Regions from separate parts of the Homo sapiens genome. Here regions 2, 3, 4, 5, 6 and 7 are each reported to be linked to region 1. Evidence: microRNA targets listed by miRTarBase, many of them from high-throughput screens and not tested one by one. Region 1 holds a microRNA gene; each other region holds the end of a gene's coding sequence. Distances are between the middles of the regions.

Region 1 (4,068 bases):
TTTCTTTAAGCTGGTGGAACATGTTGTTGGATGCATGCTCTTTTTGCCCCTCAGCATTTTTTTAAAAATATGAAAAAATCATTATGGTTCTTTATCATAAAAGTTGTAGACCAAAAAAATAGGTATGTAATAGTTCTACTTCAAAGCATAGTATTTCTCTTTTCTCTATTTGTCAGTAAAACGATCTCAAGTTTACCTTAAGGCTGAGAATTTAGAACTATGAAGATCAAATTTTAAAAACCCAATTCCCACATCTATACTTTGTTACTTCTGAGGTTTCTCATAAGTGTATTTTCTAAGCTTATGCCTCGAATCTCTAAAATCTTATAAACAACTAATTATTTGCATATGTATAAAGACTAGGAGAACATTAACAAAACTTTATTCATGCTTAGTTTGTTCAAAAAAAATTTTTTTTTTGGGCTGCGGGGGACAGAGTCTTCCTCTGTTGCCCAGGCTGAAGTGCAGTGGCGCGATCTCGGCTCACTGCAAGCTCCGCCTCCCAGGTTCACGCCGTTCTCCTGCGTCAGCCTCCTGAGTAGCTGGGACTACAGGTGCCTGCCACCACGCCCGGGTAATTTTTTGTGTTTTTAGTAGGGACTGGGTTTCACCGTGTTAGCCAGGATGGTCTCGACCTCCTGACCTCGTGATCCGCCCGCCCTGGCCTCCCAAAGTGCTGGGATTACAGGCGTGAGCCACCGTGCCCGGCCTCAAATTTTTATGTTAAAGAATATTCATCAAACTAGCACCTGGAAGAAAGCCCAGGTAGTGCTAGTAAGAATGAACTGAGAACATTTGTTGTCATTTAGGCAGAAGATTTTACACAGCTGACTTTACAGGAAGGGCATACCCAAGGCTAGTGCTCCTCCTCTGCAGCTTCCTTTATAAAAGGAGCTGGTGCCGTAGTAGTAGAAGCAGGAGTAGCTAACATTTACTGAATGGTGCAAAGATGGGAAAGGTAAGTGCTATAATGCCCCATGAAATAGGTTAAGAATAGGCTTTACTGGAGAGGCTTAGAAGTCAACCGTTAGCAGAAAGAAGTACATGGTTTACATTTTGAATTATCCCATTGATTAGGGGTGCTGGAGTTTGGGGAAGCATTTGGACATTCATTGGGTTTGTATTTCAAAGGGATAGTGCCTGACTGCTACTCTACCTTCTTATAAGAGTGTAAACTCCTTTTCAGTGGAGAAATGTTTTTGGCTCAGTTATCAAACCATCATGAATCAGTTAGGTATCATCTAAGGGACGGGATGATGGAAATGCCAGCTGCCCAGAACCTGGAGGCCTTAAGAGGTGCTCTTAATGGTTGTAAAGAAAGCATTGAATCATTGGGAAGTTGGGTTTAGGAGAAGAAACTCCACAAAGTGGGAGATTCTTAAGACCCTCAGTTCTAGGTAGCATTTTGCCAGACAATCCAAGATGATCAATTTTGTTTGCCACACCACATGAGTGCATTTTATAAGCAAGGCACTATGTGAAGTACTACCCTTAGATGGAGTTATGATTATTTCCTTCATTTATAGACATGGATATTGAGTTTTGATGAGGTTAATTAGTCCAAGGATTTGCAACCATAAGTTCAGAAATTTGAATTTAAACAAAGGCATTCTGACTCTTGTGTTCACTGTGCTGTTTTCTTCTCCCTCATATGAACTTTATCTGATACCTAAGCCTTGAGCAATTGTTTAAAAATATGTTCAAACAATTCTTTTTCAATTTCTGCCGTATGATTTTTAGAACTTGATTTTCATTAGTGAACTTATTTTTTCTAGGCCTTGAACCTCTCTACTTAATTTTAGGAAATTTATATCAAAGAAGAGTCACTTTCTAGTAAGTCTAGTAAGTACATATAGAGAGAGTTTAAATAGAAGAGGGCCCCCAAAATAGACTTGGCCTCTTAACTTAATATTGTCTGGGCTTGACCGTGCCCCTAGGATGCCTAAGTAAAATGTCTTAAACCAATCTGTCTTGTTCTGTTTCATGAAGGAAAAAAAATGTAAAAAGTCTGTGCCTCCTTCAGACTATGTGAAATATGCTTATTTTATAGGTTTTTTTTCTGATTGATTTAAAGTAAGTTACTTAACTTCTCTGAGCCTTAGGCTTCTGATCTTTAAAAATTAAAAAGCTATACATTGCTCTAAGCTTTGTCCTGAGGATATAGAAAAAGAAGGTAGATAAAGAGCCTGGACATGTCAGTTCCTTATCCTTTTGTTCCATAATTTACTAGATGTTCTAAAATATTTATTTTCTTTAGAATATAATATTTAATTCTTAGTAAGATTGTGATAAATAATAAGTGGAAGGTTTACATTTTTGTGCTTTTTTTTAAGCTATGAATTGCTGCTGGCAACTTTTCAAGAGAACATACGGGTTCATGATGATTTCCTTTTTGGTTATTTTATGTTTCCCTTCCTGCTTCTAGTTATTTAATTAAAAAGCAATTCATTTCTGGTTTTGACTATGCCAGACATGTATTTCGGGGGTATGGTGATAAGACATAGTATGAAAGAAAATGTTGATTGTCAGCATTGCTGGTCACAGTTGTTAGCTGCACAGAAATAAAGAACATTGAATGGTTCTTCAGAGATGGGCTTCTATTTATTGAGCCTTTGTGAAATAATTGAGTTTAAATAAATGGGTTGGATCATTGGCTTAGATCAGTTACTTAAAGTGTTAAAATGCCCAGAGATTGGGAGTGCAGATATTTTTGGCATACTGATTTTATTTCTTCTGAATATGTACTCAAAATATTAGGTTGGTGCAAACCTAATTGCAATTTTTGCAGTTTTTTTAAGTAATTGCAAAAACTGTAATTACTTTTGCACCAACCTAATACAATTGCCGTATCATATGGTAGTTCTATTTCTAATTTATTGAGGAACTTCCATACTATTTTTCATAGTAGACATACCAAGTTACATTTTCACCAATAATGTATAAGCATTCCCTTTTCTCCATATCCCCATCAACACTTATCTTTTGTATTTTGTCTTTTTTAATATGCATCTTGACAAGTATGAGTTAATACCTGTAGTTTTGATTTGCATTTCCCTGATGATTAGTGATGTTGTGAACATTTTCGTATACTTGTCTGTTGGCCATTTGTGTGATTTCCTTGGAAAAATGTCTATTCAGTTCCTTTGTTGACTTTTTACTTGGGTTACTTGGGTTTTTTCCCCTTTTTTGGTGTTCTTGTGTTTTGTTCTTGTTTGGTTTTATTTGATATTAAGTTGTATGAGTTTCTTACATATTTTAAATATTAACCACTTACTGAATATATGGTTTCCAGTTATTTTCTGCCATTCCATAGCTTATCTCTTCACTCTGTTGATTGTTTCCTTGACTTTGCAGAAGTTTTGTTTTTAGTTTAATTCCACTTGTTCATTTTTGCTTTTGTTGACATTGAAGTGCTATTGGAAGCTTAGAGGTTGAATCCAACTCTTAATGCCAGAACTATGCTTCGTACATCGGTTTGTAATATATAACTCAGTTTATCTGCAAACTTGCCTTGGAGATAAATCAATTTCTATCTATCTATCTGTTACATCTTCCCTCCTTTCCTGTCTTTCCATTGGTGAAACAGAACCTTGGTCTGAGCAGGAATTATGGGTGTCATCAATGGGGCAATAGCTTTAGCTTCCACTTTCACTGCCATAGCTTTATGCTTATATGACGAGTGTCTTTCTTTAATACAATCATCAACCCTAGGACTTCTCCATTCATAGTAACATGATGTGATAAAGAATCTTAAAAATAACACAGGTATTAAAATGATCTTGGTGAGATTTAAAAGTATTCTATATTTCAAATACAGATCAGTTAGAATTAAAATGACAGCACTTTGGGAAGATAAAAATAATACAACAGAAAACAAAAACAAGATCTACATGTTTTTGTTTTGTGTTTTGTTTTTTGTGTGCTCTTTGCTCTTTCAAAGAAAGGGGGATTGTTGAGCTTATGATGAAATATTTTTACAGTAGTTAATAAACATGCATTAACTGCTTAATTAGAATGTAAACTTCCTGAAGCGTTCGTATCCAGGGCAGATGTTTTCAGATTTCTGTC
Region 2 (4,068 bases), 44 Mb from region 1:
TCAGTTTCCTCATCTATAAAATCAGATGTCCATGGGTCCACATCAAAGGGTGATGCTGACCCCATGAGAGAGTGTGCATAAAACAGCACAAGGCTTGGCATGAAGAAACGCTTAATAACTTATAATTTATTTTTAAGGTTAAACCCATTCATTTTCTATATTTGGAGGTAGAAAGTAGGAAGTGTCTAGACGGGCCTGGCAAGGAAGAGGGCGTAGATAGTGCTTCTGATCACCTGTGACTCCTTCCTCTGTTGCAGCCCCCCATGGGTGAGGAGGGCAACCACAAGCGACACTCAGTGGTAGCAGGAGGTGGCGGCGGTGAGGGCAGGAAGCGGTGCCCCTCCCAGTCTTCCAGCAGGCCTGCTGCCATGATCAGCCAACCCCCTACACCACCCACCGGCCAGCCTGTCCGGGAAGATGCCAAATGGACAAGCCAGCACTCGAACACACAGACTTTGGGAAAGTGAAAAGCTCCTTAGCCCTGGGGCTTGAGGGGGGAAAGGGGTAGGGTGGGTAAGAGTCCATGGGGGTGCCCAGTCCCAGGAAAGGGGACAATGAAGGGACAGGCCTGGAGTTACTAGGACAGGCCTTTGTGCTGAGTAGCAATGTATACACCATTTGGGCTATCAGAGGTACCCCTGGGCAGGAGCCTCTACATCCCCTTCCCCCTCCTCTCTCCATGACTCTTGACATCCTAGCTTCTTCTAAGGGGGGAGGGAAAGGGGGGAGATTTTTATATATATATACATATATATATATCAAGTTTTAAATTATTGATAGTTCATCTGGATTACCAAAATCACTCTGCAGCCCTGCCCGAGGCTAGTAGGCTGCAACCCTGGTCCCCACCCCTAACCTCCTGCTCCCCCTCAAGCCAACTATGCAGCCCACAAGAAGGCCCTGCGGGCCCCCCCATTGCCCAGCACTGTCTCATAGAAGGCTCTGGTGGTACCTCTGGGCCCCAGGAGCATCAGCCCCTTGATCATCTGGGGTTTGTCATCACCATATTTTCTCCCTGCTGTTCCCACCATGCCCTTCTGCCATCTTCTGGGAGAAGGAAACCAAAGGATCTAAAACTGGGGTTTGGGGGAAGGTTTCAGCCTCTCCCCACTCCCCTTGCCCCACACCCTTTACTCCCCAGCCCAGAGAGACGCTGCTTTTACCAGGAAAGACTATTGAAAGATGTTTTATTTTATTTTTCTCTGACCTTTCCATCCTTGAAAAAATGGGGAAAAAAGAAGAAAAAAGACAAAATCGACCATAAAAGACCAAAAAAAAAAAAAAAATCAGAAAACCCCCACCTAATCCACAGAAAGTAATGTCTTTCCCCTCCCCTTGGAATTTTTGTTTTGTTTTTGGAAATAATATTTTTTTAAAAGTTGCCTTATTGTGGAGCGGGAATCTGAAATACCCAAATGCCTGTTTTCCTCGGTGGAGTCAACCCGAAGAGCTCCCACCTTCTCTGGATGTGCCTGGGCTTGGACTGGCTAGAATCTTTCTCTGGACTGTTGCATGTACAGTGCCTCCATCCTGGAGGCAAGAGAGTTGGGAGTGGCTCGAATCAGAGCCGTGCCCAAGATATCCCTGCTGTTGCATCGTTTGAAGCTGACGTCCTGTGTCTGTACACTGCTGCCACTGTTGTGTCCTCGCTCTGCTTGCTGTTGCCTCACGCCAGGCCCCGTCCTGCCGTGACACCCTTCATCCTACCCTTGGAACCCCAAGGCCAAGTTGGTTCAAACTGTTGGAGAACAGAGTTGGCCTGCATCTGGAACACACTTGTCCTCAGCTTACCATCTCCTCACACCCCAGAGTGGAAAGGTGAACACCTGCAGCTGAGGCTTGGAAACGTTTCTTGTGTTGCCCTGAAAAATCTTTGAGACCTCAGGGAGGCTCTGTCTCTCTTAAAAGGTGGAGAAAGATGCCATTCTCTCCCTAAGGTCTGGTGGAGTCTCCCCATCTTGCATACCCTTCTGCAAGCCATCTATCTCTGCTCACTCTCCAATTGACCCGCCTGGGAACAAGGGATGAGGAGGAGTTGGGGGCTGGGGGGAATCCTGCCAGTTGGTGAAGCCCTGTGGCAGGAAGGTATATGTGGACATAGAGTATACCTGATTCTCTTTCTTCAGCCACTGACTGCTTGGGTTGGGCTGTGAATGATAATGGAATGGCTGGAGTCTGCTGTTGTCAGAAGGCAGGGAGGGTGATGAAGGACTGACCCACATGGACTGGGATGTGTGTCGGTTATGGGCATGACTGCACGTTCACTCTCAGTGGGATCTGGGCAACATGGAGTTCATTGTCCTGTTGCTTACTTACTGCAATGTCTTTGGCCCTCCTTTTCAACTGGTTCCTCTGTTGGGCCCAAAGGTTGGGAGTAGGAGACAGTATCCCAGGCTGACAAGGGCTTGCCCTTTACCTTGGGCACCTTGTTAATTTTTAGCCTGTGCCCTTCCCCACCTTTGCCCTCCCAGTGGTTGGTATGTGGGAAGCCCATCTCAGTTCCTGTGACTTCATGTCTCAAACCAAGGATGAGCGTCTGGTCTCTGCTATGATGGTGGTATCCGAGGCCTTTCCCTGCCCAGTCTGGTGCCTGCCCCACATTGTACCGGACACTGGATTCCTGGACCCCCTTCTCCTTTCCTTTCTTTCCTTCAGGTCACGCAGCCCTGTACTGTATCCAGCACCACAGAAACCTCAGTGTTTTTCCTCTGCTGGTTTGGGGCACAAGGAAGCCTTAGGGTATGGGGAAAGGCTGTTATTACCTAGAGTTTACTCCCAGGCCAGGGGGCTGCCATCTTCTTCACAGACATCCCTGAAAGGAAGCCCCTTTGGGGCAGGGAGGTGAGGACTTCATCTCAACATCGGCTGGTGGTTGGTAGGGGAGCTTTTTCTTTTCTTTCCTTTTTTTTTGTTTTTGTTTTTGTTTTTGTTTTTGGTAACATGTTAGGAGTTAATGTTGCAAAGAGTAGTTTACATCTTCACTTTCTGAAGACACTTGAATTTAGGACCGATGTATCTGTGACAAGCATGCCAGAAGTGGCAGGGGCCATCAGGGCTAACCACTTCACACCTACCATCGTCCCATGGGGATCCAAGACCTGAGATAAAGCAACAGCCTGCCCAGATCCCTCTGTTCATCCTATCCCTTCCAAGGTTGGTCCATGCCAACATAACCTCTGGGCATCAGACATCAGCAGGTCTGTGTGCCTCAGCCCTGTTAAGGGGCAGGTTTCTCTTTAGCCCTCTTCCTGCACTTGGGAGCAAAGGCACTACCAGTAGAGAAGGGCCATCCAGCCGTGCCCCAGCCTGGACCCCTGGGGCTCAGATAGAGGTGCTGAGCCCCTGTGTCAAAGTTGTTAAATGTTTTTGTTTTGTTCCATTGTAGCTCTTTTTTTTTTTTTTTCCCCTTTCCTGGTGATTGATTTTACAAAAGAAAGTAAGCTGCTTAGAAGGCCCTGGAAGGGAAGTGAGGAGGAGGGACAAGGAAGATGACTAGTTACGGAGGGTGAGGGTTGTTTTTTGCCAAAAAGCCTGGGTAGAGTGATCTGAATTATCTGGCACCCTCCTGAATGGAACCCCAGAGTACCTCCTGTGTGGAAGGGTCCCTGGATTTTCCCTAACACCCACCCTCTCCCCCTTCAGCCATGCTGATGGCAGAGAAGATAAGAACTTGGAGCCCATTTCTCACTGGAGAGGAAAACTTGTCATCTGGCTTTGCGGAGAAGGTTCCACCTTACGCTCGTAGTACATTATCTTTACTATGTGCTAGGATATCATATTTAAAAGGACAAAAAAATGTAAAATACTTGAATGAGCTTGTATTATAACATTAATATTATTGAGAGTATCTGCTTTCCAGGCTGAAGTGATTCATTCATTATTCTAGTCCTGCTTTAGTCCTTTGTAATTTGTGGTAATTATGCTTTTCTTTTTAATACAAAAAAATGTATAAAAATAAACACTTGAAAAGGCAAAATACTGGCTGGTCTTCCATCTAGGTTACTGCTATTGGGTGTGAAGGATGGGTTTCTGGTAGAGTTCCCCCAGATCCGGAGGAACCCTGCACTC
Region 3 (4,068 bases), not on the chromosome of region 1:
TCAATTTAGAAAACTACTGTTATACAGCTGTAATTTTTACTTAATGCCATTCTATACAAACCAATATAACTTGGATGTTCACAATCCACGAATGCCTACTAAAAGTATTTTTACTTACTTTGTCTTTTAAATTGATAACCCATGTATTTTAAGTTTATATATATAGTATTTTAGTAATACACTGAATTACTTAAAACATAAATTGGAGTTTTTACTAAAAATTATATCTTCACCTACCTGCCTCCCATTTTAAGCATGATTACAAGTAAATGAAATTTCTATTTTATTTTCTCAACATATTATACCTAAAGTTCTTTAAATAAAGTTTGAAGGTATCTCTTATAATAATATAGTCAATGCATAGTCATCATAGTTCAATAAGATGTGTTCTTTCCCTGACAAAACTGTGTACTCCATTAACAAGTCTTCCTATCTTATTATAACAAAGTAATTTCCTTTCATTGGTTACTTTAACATAAATATTAATGGCATTCAAAGGAAGCATAGATTCTTAATGTATTATCCATCGATATAAATTATATGTGTATATATATATGTATATATATATATATATATGTAAAACTTAAGAAGCATTTTGCTTCCAAAGCAGCAACTTGTAAAAAGTATCTGTATTTAAAATAGAATTTACTGGAATTCTGATCGTTTATTCTGTGGATCTGTTTTTCATCTGCTTTCTTAGTAACAATCAGAATCATAGGTGCAAAAGAGTAGAGGGGGAGAAACATACACTAGGGAGAGTCCCAAAACTATCACGAATTAAGAATGATGTTAAAAAGATGACAATGAAAGTGCTTTGGTAAGTAAAGATGTCCAGAGAAAGAAAATGAATGAATGGAATTTCACAAGCATTACCCCTGAGGGTATAACAGGAGCATCAGAAGACGTCAGAGAATTTTTGGGAGGACTTCAGATGGCTCCAAATTCCTGAAAAAACCCTACACTCTGTAGAGGAAGAATATATAGAGAAGAAAGGACAGAGTAAATAGTTCTCATCAATATTTTGAATGAGAGACCAAAAACACAAACACACACAAGGAAAAAGAGACAAGTTCCAAATGTTCTGGAGGCTTTGCAATACTGCAGTGGTTTGCTACAAAAGTCTTTCATGAAGTTCCCAGTAAAAACCACCATGACAATGGTATCTGACTATACTGTCCCTTCCACACCCAGTCATAATTTTCTCTCTTAAAATTGGATTTATATTTCCCCATACTACAACTGTAAAAATGTTTTCCTGCTCACATACACTAATCATTGAGAATTTGGTTATTGGAGTTTTCCAGAAAGTAATATTTTGATTGTCTTTACCATTCAGAAAAGAAATTATTTACCTTTTAATTGATGCTAAGCTTGCTTCACCATGCAAACCAATAAATTCACTCACAGAATCTTTGATTGATCTGATAGTAGAGTGCTTTCTTGTAAACTGCCTTTCAAGTTTGTTACACTAATATATTTGTGGAAACATTTCATGAATCCAGGTATAAAAAGATCTTTAAGCAAACATAATAAAAATGAGAGTTTACCCTTCTTGCATATACTTAAGCACAACCAGGAAATGGTCGTTTTTATTTTTTCACTCCTGAAAAGGGTTAAAAGAAACTCACAAATTTTATAATTCACAGAAATGTGGGCACTTACCATTTCTGTAATTCACAAAACAAGTGCATTATTTGGCATACATGGTGTTTAAGGCTAAAATCATAAAATACTCACTAATTAGCTTAAAAGTGTAAATTACATCTTAGAATCTGTCTAGGCAACAGGAGAATTTGGATTTGCTTTATTTAAGATTATCATGAAGTCCACAACTTTGATATTTAAATACAGCCTTCATAATGAATCTTTTCTAGATGGTGGTCTTTAGAAATCTTTAGAGATAAATAATGAATCTTTTAGACATGAATGATCACTATATTTAACAATAACCATTGTCCTTTCAAGGTAACCATGACAGTTTTATTCAGTTTGGCAAATACTTTTCATTGTTAGCCTACATCTAGAATTTAAACAATATTAGGTATGGTCTCTAATTGCTTTGACTGTTGGTGATGTCATTAGGGCTGTCTTTGTCTGAATAGTGAAGCAGAAGTTTCCCTTTGTATTTTTCTGTGGTTTGATTCCTTTCTCCTGTTGCCTGTACCCTCCCAATTTCTTTTTTCCCTCCCAAATTTCTACCCTACCGTCCTATGCCACCACTTTCAACTGTCACTTTTAGTGGTATATTATATTCAACTTTCACATAATCATTAAAAAATAATAACTAGGTGCCTGACCCTTTTGAGAGAATTTACATATTAAAAATAATTCTCAAAAGTAGACAAAATATGTCCAAAACATTAAGTTATTTATTATTCGACTATCTACTACATTTGCTCCTAAGGCTAGACCTGGGATGGCGGCAAGAATTCTATACAGAATGAGAGATAAATAAATATGAGAATAGTAAAGGATTGCCCTCTCGCATTTATCTTCCTCTTGAATATTCATTTCTTCTACTGCCAGGTATTCTTCTGGACTATGCTGATAGAGTGGATTCTAGAAGTATGGACAGAGATACCCCATTTCTAGAATCCATCCCATATTTCACTTTTTAGTTAACAAAAATGTCTTGGTTAATCACTGCAGTCAATATTTGTTGGTAAACTCTCCAGCTTTGAGACTCCCCTTTCCTCTTCTAACCATGCTCTGAATTGCCCAGTATTGTGCTTTGACCCTGCTTCTCAGCTCTAGAAGTGAACCCTTAGTTTACTTAAGCCATTCCATCCTTTCTGGTCATGTTGCCTATTTAACAATGAAAAAATAATCAAATTTGTTTGCTCCATTTGAGAAGCAAACTCTCTACCAGACAGAAACAAGGATGTATGAATTGCCAAGAGTTGGCAGCCATCTTGCCAACACAAGAGGAAAGCCTGCATGAGAGTGAGGCCAAGACCAGGGAAATGGATCCAACACTCTGGAAAGGGATTCAGAAGCCAGTTTATGCCCATACTTAATTCTAGACACAACATTTAAGCCCTGGTAAATAGCCCTTGCCCAAAGCTTAATCTCCCCTGGATCATTCTGTTATATGATACAGTAAGTTTTCTTTTGTATATAAACCAGTTAGAGTCAGGTTTTCTGAAACAGTTCTATGAAAAATGATTTTAGGTAATGAAGTATTTTTCCTATCAAAGTAACTCAATTCAGACAACTAGTATCTAAGGTAGACCTTGGGTAGTGGAAAAAAATTGCATAAAGATCCATGCATGAGTACATAAGAGTCATTACTAATGCACTCATGTCAAGAATAAGCTTAAACTCTAGTCTTTGGTCTGCGAGAGAAGGTTGGATAGTTGACATAAATATCCTCTCTTGTATCATCCATGGATTGATTGGTAGGTTGACTGGTAGAGATGGGACTTCTATAGTTATTGGGTGCCTAGAAAGACAAACAGCAGAGAGTGTCAATAATTCACTGCATTTCAACAACTAATGAAGACATTCAAAACATACCTCTCATAAATGCAGGCATGATATGGGACAAGTTTCCATTATAATTAATTTGATAAAACATTCTCATTGTATTGAACTTCTGTTGGAAATCATATTCTTGACTGAGATGCAACAGAAATCTAGTCTAGATTAATACTTGCTGTATTGTGCTATGAATTACCTGTTTCAATGTAGAACTCCCTCTCCCAATGTTAAGCTATTTTGATAAGAACAATTACTATCATTTTTATATGGAAATTCTAACACAGTGTCTGAACTTTAAAAAATAAGCAACTTAACATATAAAAAGTTAACAAAACTGACATCAAGATGATATTGTATAATCATTAATCTTCTCTACCGTAATCAAGTCACTTTGACCACATATGTATGTATGTAACAGAAAATATGCAGGTGTGAAAAAAGAAAGACAAATTAAGAGACAAAAGAAACTAGAGAAAGGTCTTTTGATGAGTAATTTAAAAATTTAGATTGACCTTAGTGTTGTTGGTTTTTTTGAGTCAGAGTCTCGCTCTGTTGCCCAAGCTGGAGTGCAGTGGCGCAATCTAGGCT
Region 4 (4,068 bases), not on the chromosome of region 1:
CAGTGCCGCTGCCACCGCCGCTGCCACCGGGCTGCTGGACAGCCCCACGTCCATCACCCCACCCCCTATTCTGAGCGCCGATGACCTCCTGGGCTCACCTACCCTGCCCGATGGCACCAATAACCCTTTTGCCTTCTCCAGCCAGGAGCTGGCAAGCCTCTTTGCCCCTAGCATGGGGCTGCCCGGGGGTGGCTCCCCGACCACCTTCCTCTTCCGGCCCATGTCCGAGTCCCCTCACATGTTTGACTCTCCCCCCAGCCCTCAGGATTCTCTCTCGGACCAGGAGGGCTACCTGAGCAGCTCCAGCAGCAGCCACAGTGGCTCAGACTCCCCGACCTTGGACAACTCAAGACGCCTGCCCATCTTCAGCAGACTTTCCATCTCAGATGACTAAGCCAGGGTAGGGAGGGACCTCCTGCCTACTCCAGCCCCTACCCTGCACCCACATCCCATACCCTCTTCTCCCTACCCATCCCATTCCCCACAGGCCCTACATTAACAAGGTTAAGCTCAACCCCTTTCCCCCAGCACCTCAGAATGTGCCCTCCCTCTCCCCCTCATAACCCCACCTAACATAAGGACAAGTCAATTTGTCAGTAGCTTCTTCTGGCTTGAAACCCCCTCCCTGGATTTTATAGCCCACTTACCATGCATAACAGACAAGTCCCATATTTTGTCAGTAGATGCCTTTTTTTTTCCGGCTTAAGCCTTAAGTGCCAAATCACAAGAGAAAAAGCAGTAACAGTTTACAGAAGCAACTTAGTGCCTTGTAATCTAACTTTGTCACTGTGACTACATTACCTCTTCAGCGCCAGAGGGCACCCGTGGGCCTCCCGGAGCCTCTGCCCATGGCGGGGTGGAGACCCGGAACCAGCAGCCCCCTCCACTGGCGACACAACTGCACCTTCCCTCATTTCAGTCTCCCGCACACTTATTCCTCCTCCCCTCTTCCCGGTGGCACCTCTCCACCTGTACCCGCCCCCCCACCCCCCCCACCCCTGCCCCTTGGAAGAGTTGTTGCCAGACCAGGGTTTTGGGGGAAACCTGTCTTGACATTCAAAACCTTTTTCTTCCCGATCTGAACCCCTGTTGACTAATCTTGCCTGGGTTTGTGTAGGTCTGCAGGAAGGAAGGCTGAAAAAGCGGACGAAGATTTTGACTTAAGTGGGACTTTGTGATTTAATTTTTTCTTTTTTTTAAGTGGGGAGGAAGGGGAAGCTAGATGGACTAGGAGAGACTTGATTTTGGTGCTAAAGTTCCCCAGTTCATATGTGACATCTTTTTAAAAAAAATAACAACAAAAAAAAAATGAGAGAAAAGCTAAAAAAAAAAAAGTAAGGGGTGAGCAGTTAATGGTATTCATTCCACATACAATATCTGTGTAAAACGATTTCCTGTAGAAGTAGCTTTAATGGTTTTTGCTCTAGAATACCGTAGGTCTATCCTTAGAGCACTCACGCCATGCTTTCTTCCCTGGGTTTTAAACTTCATATAACTTTCAGAAATTGGAGAGCAAAAATTTTGCTTGTCACTGCACATCAATATAAAAAAGCTTATTTAACTTATCAAAACGTATTTATTGCCAAACTATGCTTTTTTTTGTTAATTTTGTTCATATTTATCGGGATGACAAATCCATAGAATATATTCTTTTATGTTAAATTATGATCTTCATATTAATCTTAAAATTTTGTGACGTGTCTTTTTCCTTTTTTTCCACAGTTTTAATATATTATTCTTCAACGACATTTTTTGTAACTTTACACTTTTTTGGTTATTTTATTTTAAAAAAATGAAAAATTAATTTAAAAAAATGCAAAAAACTGTTGGATTATTTATTTTAGAAATTCCCCCCTTTGTGTTGGACTGCAAATTGAGTTTCTTTCTCTTTAGGCCTTTCACAACTAGGACTGAGAATGTATGTAAAAGTTCTGTGACAGTACAGAAGGAAAACAACTTTTTATGTATAGCTTCTAAAAGGGGAAAAAAAAAAAAAGAGAAACCCTTTGACTTCCACGTGCCCATCTCAAGACATTCCACTCACAGATTTGAGGTTCTGGATTCCAGGTCTGGAGTTTTCCAATGTTAATGTAAACAGAACTGGCACACACACATTAAGATGAATGTAATTATTATTCCTCTTGCTGGTCACTACCGTCGCTTTCTATTTCTCTTTCTTTGTGTGAATTTATTTAAAAGAAAAAAAAACTTTTTGTAACGACTATTTGCAGTTTAAAAATCAATAAACCCCGTTTTTTCAAGAAACATTGATGGTGGAGCTGGTTTTACTTGGTTTTGGTTTGACTTTGCCAGTAAGGTTCTCCCCTTGTATACCTTGCAAGTCCTGGGTAGGGGGAGGCGGAGAGAGAGGGCTGTGGCTGTGGGTGGCGGCATCTCTCATCCCTATAAGCTAAGCCTATAGCTCCCTTCCTTGATGCTGGCAGTTTGCTGCGCTTAGAGGGGACGGGGTGGAGGTTTTCTGCAAAGGAGCCTGTACTTCCTGCTGTATTACTTCTGAAAAGACTGTGCAGTGTGTTAGTTGTTGGCTGAATAGCAGCGGGCCCAGCCTTGCCGACACTTGTGTGGCCTCTGCGGTTCTTCTGGGGAGCCAAGGCTCAGGGCCTTCCAGTCCGCCCCGTCCAGCCTGTGCTCTTCATTCCTTTGGATGGTGTTTGGGGTGCCAAAATGATAAAAGAGGACCTAGCACTTGGCACACTTGCAGGCTTGGATTTGAGTGAGTTCTTTTATTGGGGTGCCTTGGGCTCATTTTGCCCATAAGAAAGAAATTTACCTCAGTACTGGCCTCTCAACACCTACCCGTGTGGGGAGGGTATAAGGAAGCACTGCCTGCTTGGAGAGGAATGTCCAGCGGGGTGAGGGGCTCAGTCACAAGGAACTGGGAACTGGGACTGGATTTGACATAGCCTTTTGGGTTTGGAGGGCTGTTAAGGGGAAGTGAGTGTTAACACTGGCCAACACAACACAGCAAGTCACCAAGGGTTCCCACCACCTTAGTTACAATCTCAGGTGCTATGCAAAATTAGGTATGTCGTCATCTTGGGAAAGGTGGGGTCTCCTTGGCTAGATGCACCCCCACCAAGGCTAGATGACCACTTAAGAGGTGGCATTTCACCCGCCGGAGGAGTTGGAACTTTCACAAATCTTGAGTGTGAGCCTTGGGAGGATTTATTTGGGGAGAGGCAGAGATTGCTATTTGCAGCTCACTTGCCTTTGGTTCCTTTACACCCAGGAAGTTTTGGGAGTTCAGCTGAGTCACCATGATTCCACCAGGCCTCTTCCGAAGGTCTGCAGCAGACATTGGGCAGGCCAGGGATGTCCCTGAGACTCGAAGACCTACCTCTACTCTCAACTCATTTCCCTGGTCATCAGATATCTACTGGGGGTCAGGGGGTGAGGTAGAAAAATAGGGACTATTACCTGTTCCAGGGCAGGGGCTGGTGGTTTAGGAAGGGGAAAAGCAGCCCTTCTTAGGACTGGAGTAAACCTAGGCCTCTTGTCCCTTAAGGAGGAAATGAACTTTGTGTGTGTGTGGAGGTGGTGGTGGTGGTGGTTGGTGGTGGCATGTGATCTTCCTTTCGGAGTAAAAGCAAAAAAGACATTTAATCATTCACCTTGAGCTCATTCCCTGCAGGCATACCTGAGCATGTGGCAGACACCTTTCTAACTTCCCCTCTCATGGTGACGCTGGTTAGGTTCCTAGAGGCCCAGGCGTACCTCCTGGCCAGCCCTGAATTTCCTCTAGAGGAGACAGTCCTTTGACTGAGTCAGTCCTTTGACTTTGTCTAACCAAGATAGAGACATTGACTACTGGAGGCCCTGGAGGGTGGGGGTTGGCTGTAAAGCCCAGGGGAGACTCCTTATCATGTGGGGAAGCTCCATGTCCCCGGGTCTTAACCCTTTACCTCTACCTAAGTGTCTCCCTGGGGAACTCACTCAGGCTGGGATTTAGGTAACCCAGGCCCATGTGTGGTGGCCACAAGAGCCTGGTTGTGTCCCATTGAGTCCTTAAAGTTAGAGGAGATGGCCCTTGGGAAAGGGAACAGCAGA
Region 5 (4,068 bases), not on the chromosome of region 1:
TTGTTTAAAAATTATTTTTCAAAAGCTTCATTAGCATTTAAAGTTTTTGGTTCTTGGGCAGGTCACTTTTATATATAGATTGCCAGTAGACATGAATTTATTCTAAATGAAACTACCCTTTATCCTCTGAATCTGTAACCTTGACCAATTGAAAAAAGGATGTCAAGGAAATATAACTTGATGTACATTCTTGAAAATATCTCTGCCATCATTTTGCAGTAATGTGCCAATGATGGAAAATGTTTTACACTAATTTCATCAGCACTGATGTACAAAACCAAAACGTTTTCAGTCTGCGTCCTTTTCACACATATTTCAGTTCAAAGCTTCTGCTGTGTGAAAAGCTGACTAGTTTTCAAACCTTTTCAGAAATTGCAAACTAAATATACTGAATATTAATCTACATCTCCCTTTAATACATTAGCTACAGTCTAGAGTTTGACACTGGGAGTCCAACTTGTATTTCAACAAGGGGGGTTTAAATTATTAAAGGGCTCTATTATGTAGCAGCTATTTTGAGTCTAAATCCATGGTTAGTGCTCTAAAAAAGATCCAAGACTGTCTAAACTCTACATCAATTACTGCTTTCCTATACTTTCTGCAGTTCGTAGTGACTGTATTGTCTTTGTATACAGAACATTTCGTTTTCTAAAATTTTTTAACTTCTTCAGAATACCTTCAGAGTGTATTTCAGTGATCATAAACTCTTTGAGGGACTGAATCTGAACTCCAAGCAGCAAAACCGTTTTTGCACTGCTCAAAATTTAATAATCAATAATCTATCTGCCTAATAATGTTTTATCAACCGCTTGGATTACATTCTTGGTAGATGACCTATAGTTAATTGATTTAATCAAAATATAAGGTGAGAAGGGGTACATTCACTATCAAGTTGACGAACACTTATTCAAGTTTGGTAAATATCAGGCAGCACAGCACAAGTGGTCTCCAAACCTAAATGGAATACTCAGTCTTTGAGATGGTAAGAATTACCTTAGGCTTTCTATAGTAGAAGAGTAAAAATAACTCCTTATTTCACATTAGGCATCCTGTTAAAATTATCTACCCATTTAATACTACTTCTGATCACTTGGCTTAACTGAGGAATAGAATAGGTGGAAGAAGGAGCTGGTGTGTCCAGAGGTAGAGACAGGGCACATGGGAGAGTTTCCACACAATAGTGGCTTTACCCAGCTGCAGGACTAAAACGGTAGTGAGACTGGGTGGCAGGAAAGGGCACTTGTATATTCAAACCACTTACCTTGCACTAGTAGAAATCTTTATATTGCTTGCCTGTTTTAGATGGTTTAAAAGGTTAATTCTTAGCTGACTTGCAAATAAATAAAACAAACCTAGCTGGAAAGGAGACTGTTAAGTAAATGTAGCTCCTTACACAGCCCTGCTTTACTGTCTGTGAATGTAAGCCCTTCCCTCCCTTCCAGTGGAACACTGTCTCAAAATAAAAATCACAACTTACTTGGAACCACATGCTATTGGTGCATCCTATTTTTAGGTTGCTTTCATTATTTTATTTTTTATACAGATACATACACATTGCTAGAATCAAAGCAAAAATATTAATGGGCAGGTACTACAGAACTAAAGTGAAACAAAACAAAACAACGAACAACTGAAAAACAATAGCTATAAACTTTCAAGGCCAAAAGATAAGATTTAAGGGCAATACCTGTTGAAGAAGGAAAAGGAGTATAAAGTTCCTAGAGAGGTATTTATAATGCAAATCTAATGCCAGCTTTTTAGTAATAAAAAAGAGAAGTGCTTTACTATACACTGACTAGCACATAATACTTAATTTGGAAAGAAAAATTAATGACGTTCCTTGGGCCAGCAGCAGATATGGTGTGTCCATTGCCGGCAACAGACACAACACCGGAACAGAAAAACCCAAATCCCAGGGCTAAAGTATTCACAGAAGTAATGGTTGAAGGTTTCAGGATTTAACAGGCTAGGTTTAATCACAAGTGCTACACTCTGTACAATGTTATGGCTCTGCCTGAAATTTTACAGCTATAACAGAAACTAAATAAGACAAAGTTCATATTTTAGTGTCAATTACATGTTAGGTATTTAGTTAGTTACAAACCCTTTTTTCTTGAAACAAAGGGCTTTTCTTTAAAGTGTTGAGATGTTTGAAATGGATGTCATGCCTATTAATTACATCGGCAGTTCTCATTCAACTCTATGTTGGTTGTATGACTATTAATGAATTTTAATAGAAGTCTAATGGCCAAAGGCCAAAACTACATTCAAACTCTGCTAATATATCCAGGCAGATAGGAAATTCCAACACACACACACACGCACACGCACACACACAAACACACACACACGCTAAAACTCAAACTAAAAACCTCCCAAAGGAACTGCTTTGTTTGTAGACTTCAATTTGAAGTAGATACTAAGGGCAAGAATAGACCAGTTAAAATTCACCTGAAAATCTCTTCCCAGTCTTCAAATGTGCTAAAATATCACTGTCAGCTTAGCATCTCTTCATGTATGTTATATATAGATGTATTTTTTTCAAAATGATATTTCAGATATTTAAACATCAAGTGGCCAGAAGACAAGAGTTATACTATTGGCAAAGTTTACAGTCCACCCAGGCCTTAAGAAAGACCACATTCATTTCACTAATAACTCTCCATCAGACACAATATATTTGAGGCCACCTTATTACCACTGCATAAAGCTTATTTAAAAAAATTTGTTGCTAGCACAGTCTGGTTGGCAAAGCTTCATTATACATTTTACTGTACAAATGCTTTTCAGATGATTTTATTTTTTTTTAAACAAGAAACTCTGCTATAACAAAAATTTAGGTTAATTATGATGGTACTTTCACTGTCTCTTCTTTATTAAGTGTGGTTATCTCCAATAGTAAACAAGTTCATTTCACAAAGGCTGTTACTAAATGACTTATGTATGATGTTATCTACAATTCTCAAACTGTAACAGTACAGACTTGAACTTTTAAATTGTCTGTAAATCATCATCTATGCCATGAATGTTTAAATATAATATATATTTAATATGAAAAAGCTAAAGCACAAGTGCTTTCACCCACCCCTAAATTCTGTTTTGGGCCCTCACAGATTCGGAATGCATTTTCATCCACCCTTTTTCACAAAGTCAGGAGAGCTCAGGAAATATAAAGTCAAAAATATACAAATCTTTGTTGTTATTATAATAAGATTTTTTTCCATGAATGAAATTACCAAGGACCATGAACCTGGAAAAAGAAAATCAAAAGGAATTTACAGCAATTATTTATCTTCAAAGTTCAGAACTGGTCACTTCACAGAAAGACTTCAGGATTTGTTGAAATTTTTCTTCTAAAAGTCATTCTGTAGTGGAGTTTTCTAGGAAAAATTAAACAGCTTTTAATAACTGGCCCGCTGGTGTGAGAGCTACCGTGGAATAAATTAGCACAAAAATGGAAAAAAAGTCTTATAACTGTTCACTGTTACAGACATAATCAACAAGGTCAGTCACTCTCAAAAGCTCATCTTCCTCCTCTTCTGGTGCTCCTGCCTCCTGCCCACCACTTGTCCCATTGGAGGCTAGGCTTGCACTGGCTGTGCTGTTGTCCTTGGGGGTCTGAGACTTCTCAGTAGGCTTGCCAATCAAGTTCTCAATGGCTTTGCCAGGGCTCTGTCCATTGGTTGAAGGTAAGTCCACTAAGCTATAGTCCAATGGGCTCCCCACTTTGCCTACATTTTCAAAGTCCTCTTCCTCATCACTTTCTATCCGGTAGGGCTTCTTGGTGCTCTCTTGTTCTGAGGGCAGGACCCTAGGCTGGCTGTCACGGGCAGGCTGATTTGCATCTCCATGAGCATTGTCACAACTCTCCTCCTCATCCGTCTCAATCCGGTGTAGCCGTTTGCGGGATGGTTTGCCTTCCTCTTCCTCCTCCTCCTCATCTGCTTCTGAATACTCGTCTGTGCTTCGGCCCCGCTTTCGAACTGACCGCTTTGATTCTTTAGCTAGCTCATCATCTTCAGAGTTCTTGGACAAATAGCTCTCTAGAATAAACAGCACATTTAAGCC
Region 6 (4,068 bases), not on the chromosome of region 1:
AGTAGCTTACTCCTGTAATCCCAGCAGTTTGGAAGGCTGAGGCAGGAGGATTGCTTGAGCCCGGGAGTTCGAGACCAGCCTGGGTAACAGAGTGAGACCCCTGTCTCTACAAAAAATTTTAACAAAATAGCCAGGCATGGTGTTGCACGCCTGTAGTCCCAGTTACTCAGGAGGCTGAGGTGGGATTGCTTCAGTCTGAGAGATTGAAGTTACAGTGAGCCGTGATCACGCCACTGTACCCCAGCCTGAGCAACTGAATAAGACCTTGTTTAAAACAAGGTTAAAAACAAACAAAAGTCAAGTTTTAGGAATAAATCTAAAAATTTAAAGACTTTCATGGAAAAAATTATAAAATAATTAAAAGACATGAATGAGGATCTTTCATGGACCAGAAAAGTCAGTTTCACAATGCAAATGTCCTTTCGAAGTTCCTCAAATACAAATGCAAATGCCCTCTCAAACATGTGGAGTGGGCCGGGCGCAGTGGCTCACGCCTGTAATCCCAGCACTTTGGGAGGTCGAGGCTGGTGGATCACGAGGCCAGGAGCTCGAGACCATCCTGGCTAACACAGTGAAACCCCGTCTCTACTAAATATACAAAAAATTAGCTGGGCGTGGTGGCGGGCACCTGTAGTACCAGCTACTCCGGAGGCTGAGGCAGGAGAATGGCGTGAACCCAGGAGGCGAGCTTGCAGTGAGCCAAGATTGTAGTGAGCCGAGATTGCGCCACTGCACTCCAGCCTGGGTGACAGAGCGAAACTCCGTCTCAAAATAAATAAATAAATAAAAATAGACATGTGGAGTGAAAGAAGCAAGTTACAGAAAACAACACGTTTCCTTTGGATAAGGAGCAAAACCTGCAAAACTAAACTCGCTGTTGCAGATACAGCCATGGACAGAGGCAGGAAGGGATGCGCTTGGCGTGACCTCGTAGCGCCCTCCCAGGGGGAGCGGGGGGACTCCAGAGCAGGGCACAGAAGGCTTCGGGGCGGCGTTCAGTTGCCTGGCATAGGTGGTGGTGACACCTTGCTTCATTTTATTCTTGTTCTTTAAATTGTGTGTGTTTTCATGAAAAATATTCTGCTTTGAAAATAACAGGTATGTGTAAAGGAAAGAAAGCAAGCCAAGTCTGCCCAAGTAACTTTATTCGTGTCTTCTCAAACATTTCAGATCAAATAATGCCATTTTCTAATCTTGAAACCAGCAAGATTAGAAAGAGAATGAGGCCATCCTTTCACTCAGACTTTCCCAGTTACTCAAGATTGTATTCAGGAACGAAGTCAAACTCGGCCTCACTTCTTAATTAGAATAAACTAGAATCAGGTCCATTGCATAACTGCTAATTGTTTTGCACCAGGGAGCCACAAAGGAAGCTAAAACTAGCCTTTCTAAGTTATCCTAAGTTTTTACTATCTAACCAGCACTTCTGATTTTTTTTCCCTTAAAACTCTAAAGTACAGGTGTTGTATGTCTGCCGCATCTGAAAGGCTGCCCCGGAAATCAGAGCCTATCTAGCGGGAATGTCTGGGCAGTCACCCCCATCCTGCGCGCAGATAGCAAAGGGCTGCTGGCAGGTGTCAGACACACGGTACCGCAACAGCAGTCCCGAGGTCTGAGATTCTGAATGTCAGCAGGTGGCTGGAGAGTATCACCAGAGCCACTCAGGAACCAGCCATGCGGAATGGCTGGGTTTCTTATTGAACATGAAATGCTTCCTCTTTGGCCTGGACTGTTTTGCTAAAATTGTTAGTGGGTTTTGGGGCAGGCCAGTGTATGGGAAACTTTTTTTTTTGTTGGGGGGGGCGATGGAGTCTCCCTCTGTTTGCCCAGGCTGGAGTGCAGTGGCGCAATCTTGGCTCACCGCAACCTCCACCTCTTTCTTGGGTTCAAGCGATTCTCCTGCCTCAGCATCCCTAGTAGCTGAGATTACAGGCGTGCGCCAACAAGACTGGCTAAGTTGTGTATTTTTAGTAGAGACGAGGTTTCACCATGTTGGGCAGGCTGATCTCAAACTCCTGACCTTAGGTGATCCACCCGCCTCGGCCTCCCAAAGTGCTGGGATTACAGGCGTGAGCCACCGCGCCCAGCCGGGAAACATTTACCAGGGACAATAAAGGCTTAGAAGAACCTTTTGGGGAAACTTTGTGAGGAGCACAATTCCAGAGGGCCCACAGCAGCCACAGCCTCCTGGCGTGACACCAGGCACACTGCCGGCTGCACAGGTTGCTGGGCACAGGCAGGCACAGCCAGTCTGGAAGAGCAGCCCGTCTTAAATCTTTGGTTTCTTTCCAACCAGGAGCAAACATTGGTAGAAAGAGCCAGGGCATATTTACTCTTTACACCCAGAATTTTCATTCATTATTGAACCATTTGGCTTGCACAGTGCTCTCTGATAATGTGGTCCATAAAAACCACCATTAAAGCTGCCCTTTCACCTGATCTGGGTGGGGCTAAACGAGGAAACGAGAAGTTTCCTGTATGCTTCAAAATATAAATCAATGCCAGGAAATTCTGAAAATGGATGCTGCCTGTTAAACATGAAATCACTAAGGGAGCTTCTGCAAAACCCACCCGGCAGCATGAGGAACGGTGTCTACAGCGTGCTCCAAACGGCCACGGCCCCGCTCCTTACAGATCAAAGTTTAAGCCGCATATTCTCATATTTCAAACAAAACTACGTTACAGACATCATCTACGTGGGCACGGATACACACTAAACAAGGACGTAGTACACAATTGAGGGGTGCCCCGGGGAGCGCGGCAGGAATGCCTTCCGGGAAGAATCCTCTGGTCGCCGGAGCCCTCGCGCTGCAGAGGAAACCAGCGATCCATCGTGGCTTCGAGGCAAAAGACAGACATCCGAGACGCAGTTTACACTACTCTGGCTTAAAAGGACAAGATGTTCAATAAATATAGAGAACTCAGTGTGAAGAAAAGACAAGGACAAATCTGGACCACGTGTACAGACTTCAGGCCCTGCCTCAGAGGAGTCCTGCGGGAGTCCAGGACCGGCCCCTCCTCCACGGATGGCCAGCTTCCTCCTGACTGCCCCCAAGCCCGGCTGTGTTAAGCACTTCGCGTCGATATAAAGCATTGGTATTTGACATTTTAACAGTAACAAACTTGCCAGTGCTTTACACACTGCCAGCTTCCAGAGCTTATCATCCGTGCTCCCAGAACAGACGCCAAGGTCATGCTCCCAGCCGGATTGTCGTAGCCTCGCCGCCGTGATGAGGCAGGTGTGGAGGCCCCAGCAGCCTTCCCGGCGCTGGCGTGGAGGCCCCTCCCGCGGATCACCTGAAGCAGGGCCACGTTGCATTGCAGTTGCACAGTATTGTAAGGATCAAGCAGCGATGTCCTAACCGTAAACGAAGAGGAAGGTGAAATGAAGGCAAAGAGAATCAACCACTTCCCAAAACTTGGCCACAAACCGTTACAGAATAAGTCCTGCAAAGTGGATCAAAGTGACCCACTGCTACCTCAGGCCCAGATGGTGTGACCTGCGTGGAAATCATATAATGTCCCTAACATTATTGCAATAGAGCCACTAACGGGCCATTTTCTAAACTACACTGTTGACATCGTTAAAACCTAAGAGGCCAGTGCCCCCAAGTGAGCAGCTGCATCCGCTGAGAGTAAGCGGCGTGGGCTGCAACCCGCAGATGCGTACAGAACTGAAAATGCCAAATATGTACACAAAATTGTTGACAAAAGGGTTTTCTTCTAAAATCAAGATTTAACTATCAAAAATAAATTTCTACATTTAAATGTATATATCAACATAATTGGTCTGTAATAATTATCTTAAATAGTTTTCACACTTTCCCAGTTTGTGAGCAGGACGCCGGCTTCTCAGCTGTGTGAGTCTGGCTTCGGATTCTCTTCAATTCCTCGTGCAAAGAGTCGAACCAGCTGGCAGTGGACTCTGCAGAGACAAGCGGCCACGTGTAAACCCCACGTGTCCCTCACTCAAAGCTGGCCTGAGCCCCACTCCTGGACAGGGGCTGCAGTAAACCCCACGTGTCCCTCACTCAAAGCTGGCCCTGAGCACCGCTCTTGGACAGGGGC
Region 7 (4,068 bases), not on the chromosome of region 1:
GAGAGATTGGTTTCATGAAGAGTAAAGAAATACTTTTTAGGTTCAGATCTGCTGTCCTGGCAGCCACCACCCACTTAGGATTTGTAAATCAAGAGCACATTATGTGTTACATGCATAGACGGATTGCACTGACTGGATTTTTTTTGTGTGTGTATTCTTCTATTTCCCAGGAGAAAGACAGCTCTCATAGTGGAAGGAGTGTGGTCATTTAGTCACCAAGCACAGCACAACTTCTGTGGCTACTTCTCGGCTCCTGTGTGTCATCAGCATCACCTAGGTTTCCAGCTGACTTGGGAACTGCAAGTCTGAGTCTAACAGTTTTTGGCTTAGATTCTGAGAATCAAATAGAAGAATTTTAAATACAAGAGTTTGAGATTGGGTATAGTGGCTCACACCTGTAATCACAGCACTTTGGGAGGCTAAGAATCACTTGAGACTAGGAGTTCAAGATCAGCCTGGGAAACATAGTGAGACCCCGTCTCTACAAAAAATATAAAAATTAGTTAGGTGTGGTGGCATGCACTTGTAGTCCCAGCTACTCAAGAGGCTGAGGCAGAAGGATCCCTTGAGCCCAGGAGTGCAAGGCTGCAATGAGCCAGGATCCCATGATCACACATCTGTATTCCAGCCTGGGCAATAGAGCAAGTCCCCATTACTAAAAAACCCAAAAGGCCAAAAAACAAAAAAGTTAGAGTTCGAGGAATTACCAACTGTAGTTTTAGCCTTGGTTCATGCTCTCTTGCATATTTATATAATCTCTGACTTGTAATGGACCCTGACTGGAATGTGATCCCTCAGGAACTTAGTAGCCTGAGTCTTTCAGTAGACTACACTGCCCAGAACCCTGGCCATTCTCAAAATGAGAACTTGGGAATGTTTAAGAAGAAATCAAACATGTTTCAGGAAAAGGAAATCTATGGAGTATTATAGGGACATTCCCATGGGAATGTATCTTCCTCCATGGCATGTCTTGAGGGTCCTTTCTTGTTAGGAGTTTATCCTGCCAGCCCATAAATGGACTATTTATTGTAAGTGTAGAAAATCACAGAGAAGCAGTTTTGCACCAGCCTTATTCCTGTGCCTTGTTTTCCTCTTGCTCTTTTTTTACCTGTATATCTAATTTATATTTTCATATATATTGTGTATTGATTGAAGTCACTTTAAATCCTTCTTGGGAATGACACAGTATATAAATAAGGAAGAAAGAAAACATGCCAAGCTGAGCATGCTGCTCCAAATAAATATCTGCTTTCCTACTTTGGTGCATTTGATTGGATTAAGCCACCTTCACCACTAAAGTTCAGAGAAGACCCCGACCAACCTAGGGAGTTCTGGAGCTACCATTCTCCTGGCACTACTCAGCCTTTCAGAGTTGAGATTTCCCAAGCAGAAGCATCCAGGCAGGTCTTGCCACTCAGAGGGCCCCAGGAAGAAAGGACTGTATTTTCACTATAATAGGCTCTACCACCCCCTCCCATTTTTCGAAGCCCCTTTGGAGGCTTCATGAATCCATCTGTGCTTGACGGAGAGATCCACACTGAGCAGATTGGAAGGAGGTGGCCTGAGTGAAGGAGAGTATGTGTGTATGTTCTTTAACAGTATATCCTTACGTGCTCACTTTAGATCCCATTTATTGACACATCCATTTTCCCCCAGTCTCATTAATTTAATTACATGTGGAGAAAATAGGTTAAATTTCTGCATTAGGTAGACTTCTCTGGGATTTTTTGATTATTCATATTTAATTGGATCTAAATTAGCGAAAATATATATATATTTACAGATAATGTAGACGTAACATTCAGTAGGTGAGAGACTTCTGGTCTGGACAAGATGGCATTGTCCCATTTCCCCTGCTATGCCCTGCTAAGCACAACTTAATAAATTTTGGAAATGGTACAAGAGAAAACCAAAGGATTCTAAAGGGTGTTAAGAAGAAAGCAGGTTGGTTTGAAAACCCAGGACCAGAAGAACAGCACAGAGGCAGGGCATTTTATATCCCCCTATCAGAAGGTATTTCCTGACTTTCCATCTAGCAGCAGAAGGTAGCCCAGTAGCTCATTCTTCCCCCTGAACCTAATGGAGTCCCTCTGGCAACCTCAGGCAAGGGGACTGATTGAGAGTCCTACAAAAAAATAAGTGGACTGATTGAGAGGCCTACAAAAAAAATAAGTGACCAGGGGAAGCACCCTTATTCCCTGCTGGGTCAGAAACTCCTCTTTTCCAAGAAAAGATACTGAGGTGGACAGGAGGAGCTAGTAAGAGAAACCTAGGAAAAATAGGTGGTCCAGTTGGGGAAGCCTTTTTGCACAGGCCTAAGACTGTCCTCTCCTGCCCAGAGATACTAGGATTGGCTGGTAGAACCAGGAAAAGGGACCTGTCACAGACGACATCTCTGAAGCCAGCAACCTGGTCACAGAAGCCACGATGTGGAAGCAAGACTCTCCTCCCAGGCCCAGAGAAATCTGGGCAGCTAGAGGCATCTGCAGGATTTATCATAGCCCACCCTCACCAAGAGACACTTGGCAACCCAGCCAGGGAAATTCCTCCTGCCCTTTCAGGCAGCAGTAACAGAGACCAGTGGGAGCCCTACATAAACCAAGCAACTAAAATAACACTGCAAGGGCTCTGAAAATTAAGCTGCCATTAGAATTACAGCCCACAAAAGTAGGCTAAAACTGTATGCTAAACCTAAACAGAGTGATTCCTTGCAAAACAAAATATTTAAATAGAAATCAGTCTCCTAACATAATAGGCAAAATGTTCAGAGTGCAAATCAAGAAACAATAAAATCACAACTTGAGTGAAAAAGGAAATCAATGGATTCCAGCATTGAGATGAACCAGATATTGGAAATTATCTGATAAGAATTTTAAAGCAGACATCATAAAAATGCTACAACAATCAATTACAAATTCTCTTGAAACATGAAAAAACAGAAAAACCTCAGAAAAATAGAAATAGAAGTTTTATCAAAAGGAAACATGAAAATTATAGAACTGAAAAATACAAAAACTGAAAACTCACTGGATAGGCTTAATGGTACAGTAGAGATGATGGGGGATAAAAATCTGTGAACTTGAGGACAGAACAATAGAATTTACCCAATCTGAACAATAGAGAGAAAATAAACCGGAAAAAATAAACAGACCTCAGGGACCTATGGAACAATAACAAAATATCCAGCATTCATATTATCGGAGTAACAGAAAGTAAAGGAGAAAAAGGGTAGACATGAATATTTGAAAAAATAAGGCTGAAAACATTCCAAATTAGATAGAAGACACTAACTTAGAGATTCAAGAAGCCGGATGAATCCCACAGAAGAAAAAAAAAATCCATGCCCAGGCACATTATAATTTTTTGAAAACTAAAAACAAAGTCCTGGAAGCAGCAAGTGAGAAACAGTGCATTACTTGTAGGGGAACACCAATTTGAATGGATTTCTTATCTGAAACCATAAATAAGGAAGTGGCCAAATATTTTTTAAGGGATGAAAGAAAAGAATCATCTCCTATAATTCTAGATCTAGCAAAATTATCTTTTGAAAACAAACAAAACATTCTTAGAAATGAAGGGATTATAAAAACATTAACAGATGAATGAAAACTAAAAGATTTTGTGACTAGCCAATCTACCCATAAAAGACTAGCTAAAGGAAGTTCTTCAAATTATAAAAGAAGGAAACTTAGAACATCAGGAAGGAAGAAGAAACAATAGAGCAGAAATACTGGTTCATACAATAGACAATTTTTTCCTTATGGGTTTTAGAGAATATATTTTATGTTTGAAACAAAAATTGTAACACCATCTGATACTTAAAACAATGATATTTAAAGGTGGGGAAGCCAAAGAGACCTGAATGGAAGTGAGGTTTCCACACTTCATTTGAAGTGGTGAATATTGATACCAGTACATTGTTATAAGTAGCATGTGTAACACCCAGAGCAACCACTATGAAAACTATACAAAGTGACAAACTCAGAAGTATTACAAATAAATCAAGATGGAATCTAAAACATGTTTAAATAAGCTGCAGAAAGGCAAGAAAGATAAATAAGAACCAGA

The links. The annotated mature microRNA hsa-miR-548f-3p reads AAAAACUGUAAUUACUUUU and lies in region 1 at 2,806-2,824, shown strand. An mRNA with a match to its seed (bases 2 to 7 or 8) in the 3' UTR can be bound and repressed. Matches are read on the target gene's strand: a 7mer-m8 pairs with bases 2 to 8, a 7mer-A1 pairs with bases 2 to 7 and ends in A, and an 8mer does both.
Region 2: miRTarBase lists LARP1 as a target of hsa-miR-548f-3p. Seed matches in the 3' UTR shown: 7mer-A1 at 762-768.
Region 3: miRTarBase lists CD226 as a target of hsa-miR-548f-3p. Seed matches in the 3' UTR shown: 7mer-A1 at 578-584 and 7mer-m8 at 401-407.
Region 4: the mRNA of ZFP36L1 is a reported target of hsa-miR-548f-3p. Seed matches in the 3' UTR shown: 8mer at 1,720-1,727.
Region 5: miRTarBase lists RSF1 as a target of hsa-miR-548f-3p. Seed matches in the 3' UTR shown: 7mer-A1 at 2,354-2,360.
Region 6: the mRNA of CERK is a reported target of hsa-miR-548f-3p. Seed matches in the 3' UTR shown: 7mer-A1 at 1,443-1,449 and 7mer-A1 at 1,375-1,381.
Region 7: the mRNA of ILDR1 is a reported target of hsa-miR-548f-3p. Seed matches in the 3' UTR shown: 7mer-m8 at 316-322, 7mer-A1 at 715-721 and 7mer-m8 at 1,054-1,060.

The regions. Positions count from the first base shown.
Region 1 is chr5:110,512,600-110,516,667 of GRCh38, reverse strand. MIR548F3 (microRNA 548f-3) reads left to right here and starts at 2,753; the gene lies at 2,753-2,839. All of the region lies in intron 12 of TMEM232 (transmembrane protein 232), which reads left to right.
Region 2 is chr5:154,813,630-154,817,697 of GRCh38, forward strand. It overlaps LARP1 (La ribonucleoprotein 1, translational regulator), which reads left to right. Exons shown (of 19, transcript NM_033551.3): 19 at 258-3,976. The coding sequence ends at 467. Among named protein-coding and RNA genes, the nearest start is that of MIR378H, 14 kb to the right of the region's middle.
Region 3 is chr18:69,860,998-69,865,065 of GRCh38, forward strand. It overlaps CD226 (CD226 molecule), which reads right to left. Exons shown (of 6, transcript NM_001303618.2): 6 at 1-3,442. The coding sequence ends at 3,317. Among named protein-coding and RNA genes, the nearest start is that of CD226, 85 kb to the right of the region's middle. RefSeq lists an enhancer at 3,829-3,898.
Region 4 is chr14:68,785,859-68,789,926 of GRCh38, reverse strand. ZFP36L1 (ZFP36 ring finger protein like 1) reads left to right here. Exons shown (of 2, transcript NM_004926.4): 2 at 1-2,265. The coding sequence ends at 394. Among named protein-coding and RNA genes, the nearest start is that of ZFP36L1, 5.2 kb to the left of the region's middle. RefSeq lists enhancers at 50-129, 140-199, 2,632-2,811, 3,101-3,395 and silencers at 3,672-3,721, 3,742-3,811.
Region 5 is chr11:77,663,449-77,667,516 of GRCh38, forward strand. It overlaps RSF1 (remodeling and spacing factor 1), which reads right to left. Exons shown (of 16, transcript NM_016578.4): 16 at 1-4,043. The coding sequence ends at 3,469. Among named protein-coding and RNA genes, the nearest start is that of CLNS1A, 28 kb to the left of the region's middle.
Region 6 is chr22:46,683,282-46,687,349 of GRCh38, forward strand. CERK (ceramide kinase) reads right to left here. Exons shown (of 13, transcript NM_022766.6): 13 at 1,129-3,925. The coding sequence ends at 3,853. Among named protein-coding and RNA genes, the nearest start is that of CERK, 53 kb to the right of the region's middle. RefSeq lists an enhancer at 249-750 and a silencer at 3,031-3,325.
Region 7 is chr3:121,984,511-121,988,578 of GRCh38, reverse strand. ILDR1 (immunoglobulin like domain containing receptor 1) reads left to right here. Exons shown (of 8, transcript NM_001199799.2): 8 at 171-1,256. The coding sequence ends at 212. It overlaps LOC101927010 (a long non-coding RNA gene), which reads right to left and starts at 400. Exons shown (of 2, transcript XR_241555.5): 1 at 1-400.